Regions from separate parts of the Homo sapiens genome. Here region 1 is linked to region 2. Evidence: fine-mapped expression QTL. A gene starts in region 2. The other region holds a variant in brackets. All regions are shown on one strand. Distances are between the middles of the regions. Region 1 overlaps KIF9 (kinesin family member 9). Region 2 holds the start of KLHL18 (kelch like family member 18).

Region 1 (4,383 bases), 22 kb before region 2:
GTTCTTATGAGATCTGGTCATTTAAACATATGGCACCTCCCTGCCCCTCACTTTCTTCCTCCTGCTCCTGCCATGTAAGACGTCTTCTCCTGCTTTGCCTTCCACCATGAGTAAAAGCTCCCTGAGGCCGCCCCCAAAGCAGATGCTGCCATGCTTCCTGTACAGCCTGTGGAACCATGAGCCAATTAAACCTCTTTTCTTTATAAAGTACCCAGTCTCAGGTGTGAGAATGGACTAATACACCTTCTTTTTTGGTGCTGGGTCTTTGAAATCTGGTGTGCATTTTACACTTGCATTATATGTCAGTCAGGACCAGCCACATCTGAGTGCTCCATAGCTACATGTGGCCAGTGGCTGCCATAGTGGCCAGTGCAGGTCTAGCCCCTGAGCAGCGTCTGCTCAAACTTTACCCTGTGAAGACACCCCTGAGCCATTCCTGGGAGGGCAGATGCTCAGGCCCCCTGATGAATAGACTCAGCAGTCTGGGTGGGAATGGGTAGTTCTGCTGCATTTGGAGGCAGGGGCCTCTAGCCACACATGCTAAGAAAGGCTGCTCTGGGGCGTGACCGATCTGTTAATGAAGCCTGGACTCTGCCCACCAGCCTTAGTCAAGTGTCCTCCCCACCATCCACAGGGAGTCTCCACAGGTTTGGGCTGAAAGGCTTCACTGCCAGCACAGAGATGGGCTCCTACCAGTTTTGTCCCCTGTATACACTTCCCTCAGGGACCTCTCTGCTGCCAAGCCACAAGGCCATGTCAGGACAGGAGGCGTACTGGGCTCTCTCAGCCTCCCTTCAGCAAGGCTTATGGCTATCATGTCTAACCCTGCATCCAACATCTGGGGCCTGGACCTCCCAGAGTGGCCTCAGCTTGCTCAGCCCTTCATTCTGTGAGAGAAGGGGCAGATAATGGGTAGGTAAGTGTGGGGAAAAGCAAGAGAGATCAGATTGTTACTGTGTCTGTGTAGAAAGAAGTAGACATAGGAGACTCCATTTTGTTATGTACTAAGAAAAATTCTTCTGCCTTGAGATTCTGTTAATCTATAACCTTACCCCCAACCCCGTGCTCTCTGAAACGTGTGCTGTGTCAACTCAGAGTTAAATGGATTAAGGGCGGTGCAAGATGTGCTTTTTTAAACAGATGCTTGAAGGCAGCATGCTCCTTAAGAGTCATCACCACTCCCTAATCTCAAGTACCCAGGGACACAAAAACTGCGGAAGGCCGCAGGGACCTCTGCCTAGGAAAGCCAGGTATTGTCCAAGGTTTCTCCCCATGTGATAGTCTGAAATATGGCCTCGTGGGAAGGGAAAGACCTGACCGTCCCCCAGCCCGACACCCGTAAAGGGTCTGTGCTGAGGAGGATTAGTAAAAGAGGAAGGAATGCCTCTTGCAGTTGAGACAAGAGGAAGGCATCTGTCTCCTGCCTGTCCCTGGGCAATGGAATGTCTCGGTATAAAACCCGATTGTATGCTTCATCTACTGAGATAGGGAAAAACCGCCTTAGGGCTGGAGGTGGGACCTGCGGGCAGCAATACTGCTTTGTAAAGCATTGAGATGTTTATGTGTATGCATATCTAAAAGCACAGCACTTAATCCTTTACATTGTCTATGATGCAAAGACCTTTGTTCACGTGTTTGTCTGCTGACCCTCTCCCCACAATTGTCTTGTGACCCTGACACATCCCCCTCTTCGAGAAACACCCACAGATGATCAATAAATACTAAGGGAACTCAGAGGCTGGCGGGATCCTCCATATGCTGAACGCTGGTTCCCCAGGTCCCCTTATTTCTTTCTCTATACTTTGTATCTGTGTCTTTTTCTTTTCCAAATCTCTCGTCCCACCTTACGAGAAACACCCACAGGTGTGTAGGGGCAACCCACCCCTACAGGTAAGCTCATGCCAAGTTATGATAGGGCCAACCCTTCCACAGCGCTTGCTGTGGCCAGGCTCTGTTCTAAGTGTAGAAGTGTGGTTGCTCATTTAATCCTCGCAACTTCCTGTAAGGTAGACGTATCATCAACCCAGTTTTATAGACGAGGACACTGAAAAACAGGGAGGTCAAGGCACCCACCCATGGCCACAGAGCTGGTCTGTG[G/A]CCACACAGGAATTCAACTCAGGCACTCCAGCTCCCAAGTCTGTGCTCTTCACAGCTGGGAGCAGGACCAATAGGAAACCCATCCTAGTGCCTGGGTGGGGCCTGGGAGGGGCCAGAGGAGTAGTTTGCCAGGTGATGGGGAAGGGATAAGTGCATCCTGATGGAGGGACAGTACGCCCCAAGTGTGAGGGAGGCGAGAGCCAGGTCAACATCTCAGGTGGACTGAGACAATGACAGGGTGCTCTGGGAGGAGGCTCAGTGGTACTGGCAGTGGAACTGAGAAAGGCCTTGAGGAATCATGGGCCTGGGGAATCAGTTTCTCAGGTAAGGCCAGCAAGTGGTAGGTGTTTGGTAAATGTTGAACCTGAAAGGAGGGAAGCATTGGAATGTTCGTTAGCCTTTGCTACTCAGTAACAAGGCCAAAAATTCAACTCAGCAGAGGTCTAAAATGTGTGTGTGTGTGCTGACTGGCCTCTGTGTCTTTGGCCCATTGCTTGTGAATAGAGATTATTTGCAAAATAGGTAAAATGAGACCACTAGGAAAGATAAATCTCTGCATAGAAGCATGCTCCAAAATGGACTCTGGGGTCCCCGGGACACTAAGAGTGATGCCTGGGGGGTCGCAGCAGAGTCTCTCTGGAGGGGGAGCCAGCCAAGGATAATTATGGCTGGAGGCCTATGAGGCAGCTATGGGAGCAGGCCCAGATGCCATGCCTCATTGCTTGGATGTTAGCTGAGGGGTGGAGAGCTCCTCCTTGGCAGTGACGAACAGCCAGGGGCCTCAGGAGGCAGGCCCAGAGATTCTTGCCTCAGGCCATGCTGGGCTGTCTCATCTCTCAATGAATGATCCTGAAATGAGGAAGCAGTCTAGGAGTGGCTGGCCCCTAAGTGGGCCAGAGGAAAGACTGAAAGGGCTCTTCCTTGGGCAGTCTACTCTGGTGGCTCAGAGCTCAGCCACTGACCCCCTGCAGGACCACTGACAGATCTCACATCTTCTCTGTAAGGTGAAGGGAGAGCTGCCTTGATAAGGTGTATATGCGCTCTGTACAGAGCTGGCTCACAGCGAGCCCTCAAGAAGACGTCTCTGTCATTACAGGTGGTGTTGCTTCTATGCAGGGCCAAGTCAGACTCTCCTACTCCAAGTACAGCCGCAAGTATGGCCATGTCCCATCCCTGTGGTTACTCAGCACACATGTACAGTGTCACTGCATAAAGCAATACAATCCATGATGAGAATAGTTTTAAAGTTTCAACACATTTGGAAGAGACAATCATTAGCTTCCATACCCCCAATATACCTTTGTCCCAAACCCCTGAGACCCCTCCAACAGCTCCTCTGAGCTCTGGGTTCCGTCCTGGGCAGAGAACCCAAGTGGTATATGGGCACAAGCCCCCGGAGACTGCGGGTACCAGGAGTTGTTTCCTGAGCTGTAACCATCACAGGAGGTGGGGATAAAGGGAGACAGGGAGCTTCTACTGTCTTGGAGGGCATCTTTGTTAACAAGGCAGCCAGGAGGCCCATTTCTTATGGCTCTTCTTGGGTTCAACCATGCGGGGTTTTTTTGTTTTTTTTTTTTCTTTTCTTTTGAGATGGAGTCTTGCTCTGTCACCCAGGTTGGAGTTCAGTGGCCCAATCTCCGCTCACTACAACCTCTGCCTCCAGGGTTCTCCTGTCTCAGCCTCCCAAGTAGCTGGGATTACAGGCGCCCGCCACCACACTCTGCTAATTTTTATGTTTTTACTAGAGACAGCGTTTCACCATGTTGGCCAGGCTGGTCTCAAACTCCTTACCTCAAGGAGTGATCTGCCCACCTCAGCCTCCCAAAGTGCTCGGATTACAGGCATGAGCCATTACACCTGGCCTCAACCATGCATTTTATGCCATGAGACCAAGAAGTTCCAGAAGCCTTCCTCTGGGGATGCTGCCTGCACGTCAGCTGGAGCTCTCCTCCCCTGCCTCCCAAGTCCCAGGGTGCTGGATGTACGACAGGAGCACTCTCCTTGGAAGCTGGGACAGTCCCTAATGCACACAGCTGCGAGACCCTGCAGGCATGTCTTGCCCTGAAGCATCTTTGGAAATAATCTGTTTCTCCTAAGTAGATTCTCCAGGTGACTGAAGCTTGCCTTAAACATCCACACTTGAAAAGTAAAATGTCTAATGATAGCTTTCCTAATCTGTCTTTTGTGGGGTTTTTTTGTTTTGTTTTTTTGAGACATCTCACTCTGTCACCCAGGCTGGAGTGCAGTGGTGCAATCTCAGCTCACTACAACCTCTGCCTCCCAGGT
Region 2 (4,383 bases):
CAGGCCAGGAGCCATATCCACCTGCAATAAAGTCTTCCTTTGCACACCCGTCTTGTGAGCCTGCTACTCAGCAGCCCTTTAACACCCAAACATTTAGGGACCCCATGCCATCTTGCACTTACTGAAATACTGCTTGTTACCATTCTTACGTCGCTTCATTTGAGTGGGTTTCAGTTCCCAAAATTAAATTACAAGCTGCTTGAAGGCAAGGATTGTGCTTTTTATCTCTTTTGAATCCCCTCACAATGTCCAGGGCAGAGCCCAGCACAGAGTAGGTATTCAGGAAATGGCGGTGGTTGGTGATGGTAATGGCTGGAAGTCAGAGGGCAGCTGAATCTTCATATGTGGGTCTATCTTCAGTCACTACTGAGAGAGTCCCAAGGGGCATATGATGTCACTCCCCTTCCATGACAACTCCAACCAAAGCCCACAGCCCTTCCAGGAGGACACTTGGTTTCCAGGTGCAAAAATCCACATCCAGCACCTCACCACACGCTTTTTTTGTTTTTGTTTTTGTTTTTTGTTTATTTGTTTTTGTGACAGGGTCTCACTCTGTCACCTAGGCTGGAGTGCAGTGAAACAATCTCGGTTCACCGTAGCCTCCACATCCTGGGTTCAAGCGATCCTCCCACCTCAGCCCCGCAAGTAGCTAGGACTACAGGCGTGCACCACCACGCCCGGGTAATTTTTGTATTTTTCGTAGAGACAGGGTTTCGCCATGTTGCCCAGGCTGGTCTTGAACTCCTGAGCTCAAGCAATCCGCTCACCTCAGCCTCCCAAAGTGCTAGGATTACAGGCGTGAGCCACGGCGCCCGGCCCCCTCCCTTTCTCCCTCAGGACCTTGTGGGGAATGTCTCTCCTTGGGGAACCACCCTTTGATATTTCTGGTATAACAAAGCAAGTCTCTGAATGGCCACCAGGAGACTTCTGTGTTAAGGCGCTCGAGGTTTCCTCATTTGTCTTTAGTGGGAATGAACAGAATTGGCAACAAGCAGCCATGAAGACTAGACAAGAGGAAAGGGAGCGTTTGGTGGGGTGGAAGGCACCAGGTGGGTCCCTATCTTCCAGTGCTCCCGTCCAGATGAGGGGCTGTCATGGGGAACCCTCATAGCTACCCGTAGCGGCAGCACCAACACCCGAATCCAAAACACTGGGTCCAACTGCACCTGGCCTTGGCTGAACAAGACTAGGATGCAGGCAAAACTAGACTTTCTCCTTTTTCTCACCCAATGTGCCGGACCCCCGCGTGGAGCCTGGGCGGCAGTGGGCTTTGGACCCATTCCGGTCCCTCTCTGGAGAGGTTTCCTCACCTGTAACACGAAGGGCTCCGACTGGTGATCCCAAAGCCCCCTCTAGTTCGAAAACTGACTAGTACGGAAGAGTCCAGACGACCTCTGGCTCCCTGCCTCACGGCCTCTATGTCCTGGACGCGACGTGGGACCCCTTTGTGGGACCAATGAACATTAGCTCCGAAGACCGTAAGCCGCGGTCAGGTTGAAAGGACTCCCGCGACGTCGAGCCCTCCTTCGCCTGGGTTTCAGAGATGAGCGACCCAGCTGGGAACCCCCAGATAAAGCGGTTTTTGGACCCCAGCCACTTTCAGCAGTCCGGGCGCACACCCTTTTCCCGTCTCCCCACTCCCACCGGCGAGCAGCCCCTGCTCACCGTTCACCAGGCAGCGACGCTCCCGGGACGCGACTGCCGCAACCGAAACCACCTGCACTCCCCACGCGGGGCTGCCTGGCTGTGTACATAGTCGCCATGGCAACGGGTCGCTTCCGGGGATTCCGGAAGTGTCGGGGTGGCGGAAATGAAGTCCGAGGTCCTACGTCGAGGATACGGGTGAGGTCATGGCCGAATCGGGAAGACGAGAGATGGGGCCGATTGATCTAGAAAGACTTCGGCGGATGCACATGCGAAGTCAAGGTCGAGATAGCGAGGGAACGAAGGCCGCACATGAACCAGGAAGCGGAGTGGCGGGGCTTCCGGCGCCGAGGAGATTCAACTACGGCGGCCGCGGAGGCCCGTCCGATTGCTGCTCCGCGCTCCGAGCGGCTGTCGGCGTGCGCTATCGCCCCGCCCTGGTTAGTGTCTAGCCGGCCGGCGAGGCCTGCGCAGTTGCAGCGGCCGGGGAAGATGGTGGAGGACGGCGCGGAGGAGCTGGAGGATCTGGTGCACTTCTCCGTGTCTGAGTTGCCTAGTCGCGGCTACGGCGTCATGGAGGAGATCCGGCGGCAGGGCAAGCTGTGCGACGTGACCCTCAAGGTACCGCGGACTGGGCGGCAGCGGGCTGAGGGAAAAGGGGTCGAGCGGGGAGTAAAAAGGGGCGGGGGACAGAGAAAGAGAGGTCTAGCAGGGAGAGGGGTGGGGAGAAGAGGTGTGAGGGGGGCCGAGTAGTGGGGAGAGAGGTGCCGAGCAAAAGGGGATCGGGGCCGAGTGGGGAGAGGAAGAGGACAACCTTTCAGCCCTTGAAAGGAAAGGTTGAGAGGTGCGCCGCTTAGGCCCTTGGAGTGGGAGACACGGGTGACAGCCTCCTTTTTCTGTCATGCAGACAAGAGAAAATGGACTTACCTTCTATGGAGGCAGGGGCGGTGGCCGGCTCCACATGCTGATGGGCACCACTGAAGAACCTTCTCTTGTCACTACAGATATTTCTTTGTGCCTGTCGAACTTGGCTGTGCTGTTCTAGAAGAGAAGGCTTCTCCTTAGGAATCATTGCCCTTAATTGTTGAATTACTACTTTGTCTCTTAAGAGCTTTTAAAATCTTCTCTGGAAAATTTTTGAGGTGGGAAGCCACCCTGCCCCATACTGGAAGGCACCACTCACCACCACAAAGGTCCCCGGGGCTGGGCCTGCTGGCCGCGTGGGGAGAGGGATGCTGACTGATATTAAGAGGGAAAGATATCTTAACCACCTGTTCCCCACCAGCATTCTGGTCGCTAGAGCCAGCCTCCCTCCTGTGCCTGGGTCTTTTCATGAGGAAGAGGCATGCTGTGCTGCTGCCTGGCCAAGCCACCGAACCATGTGGAGACGTCCGGTTGGGGAGATGATCAGTGGGGCTCCCTGTTGGGCTTTAGCTGGAAAGCTCTCAGCATCTGTGCGTGATCCCTGTTTAAAAAACAAACAGGGCAGGCATGGTGGCTCACACCTGTAATCCCAGCACTTTGAGAGGCGAGAGGATCACTTGAGTGGGGGAATTGGAGACCAGCCTGGGCTATGTAGGGAGACCCTGTCTCTACAAATAATAAAAAATTGTCTGGGCATGGTAGCCTGTGCCCGTAGTCCCAGCTACTCAGGAGGGTGAGGTGGGAGGATCGCTTGAGCCTAGGAGGTCAAGCCTGCAGTGAGTTGTAATCACACCACTGCACTCCAGCCTGGGCAACACAGCAAGATCCTATTTCTCCTATTTCTCTCTGTCTCTCTCACACACACACACACACACAAATAAATAAATAAAAGAAAAAATAAAACTATGCAGAGATTCTTTTGCTCTTCTTTTCTTTTTTCTTTTTTTTTTTTTTTTTGAGACGGAGTCTCGTTCTGTTGCCCAGGCTGGAGTGCAGTGGCGCTATCTTGGCTCACTGAAACTCTCTCTCCTGGGTTCAAGCGATTCTCCTGCCTCAGCCTCCCCAGCAGCTGGGACTACAGGCGCGCACCACTACCCCTGGCTAATTTTTTCTATTTTTAGTAGAGACAGGGTTTCACCATGTTGCTCAGGCTGGTCTCGAACTCCTGAGCTTCAGCAGTCTGCCTGTCTCGGCCTCCCAAAGTGCTAGAATTACACGCGTGAGTCACCGCGCCCAGCCTGCTCTTCTTATTTTCTACATGGTTAAGGAAACTTTTCTTCTGCAACATAGTTGAGTCAGACCTCTGGAGATGGTAGAGTAGGATGGTTGAGTATGGCTTTGAAAGCAGAAGGATTTGGATTAAAATCCTAGTTGTAACCTTGAGCAAGTTACTTAATCTCTGTAAGCCTCGGTTTTTTTGCTTTTATTTTTATTTTTTTGAGACAGAGTCTCGCTGTGTGGCACAGGCTGGAGTGCAGTGGCATGATCTTGGCTCACTGCAACCTCCACCTCCTGGCTTCAAGCCAGTCTCCTGCCTTAGCCTCCCAAGTAGCTGGGACTACAGGCGCCCGCCACCACGCCCGGCTAATTTTTGTGTGTGTTTTTAGTAGAGACAGGGTTTCACTACGTTAGCCAGACTGCTCCTGACCTCGTGATCCGCCCACCTCAGCCTCCCAAAGTGCTGGGATTACAGGCGTGAGCCACCAAGCCCGGCCCTTTTCATCATTCTAAACCCCTCCTGAAGGAGGTTGTTTTTCCAGGAGAGGAGTGAAGTGATCTGAGAAGGCGTGAGATCTTCTCATATGGGAAAGAGGA

Evidence for each region. PIP is the estimated chance that this variant, and not a neighbour inherited with it, causes the effect. A credible set is the group of variants that fine-mapping cannot tell apart.
Region 1: its variant is the best candidate, but not a certain one, in a credible set for the expression of KLHL18 in skeletal muscle (GTEx, PIP 0.50).

What each region holds. Positions count from the first base shown.
Region 1 is chr3:47,258,613-47,262,995 of GRCh38, forward strand. The region is part of intron 9 of KIF9 (kinesin family member 9); the gene reads right to left. Among named protein-coding and RNA genes, the nearest start is that of SNORD13J, 10 kb to the left of the region's middle. RefSeq lists an enhancer at 1,260-2,166. The variant G/A (reference allele first, on the strand shown) is at 2,098.
Region 2 is chr3:47,280,830-47,285,212 of GRCh38, forward strand. KLHL18 (kelch like family member 18) reads left to right here and starts at 2,115. Exons shown (of 10, transcript NM_025010.5): 1 at 2,115-2,265. The coding sequence starts at 2,137. KIF9 (kinesin family member 9) reads right to left here and starts at 1,970. Exons shown (of 21, transcript NM_182902.4): 1 at 1,666-1,970. RefSeq lists enhancers at 1,294-2,493, 1,709-2,098.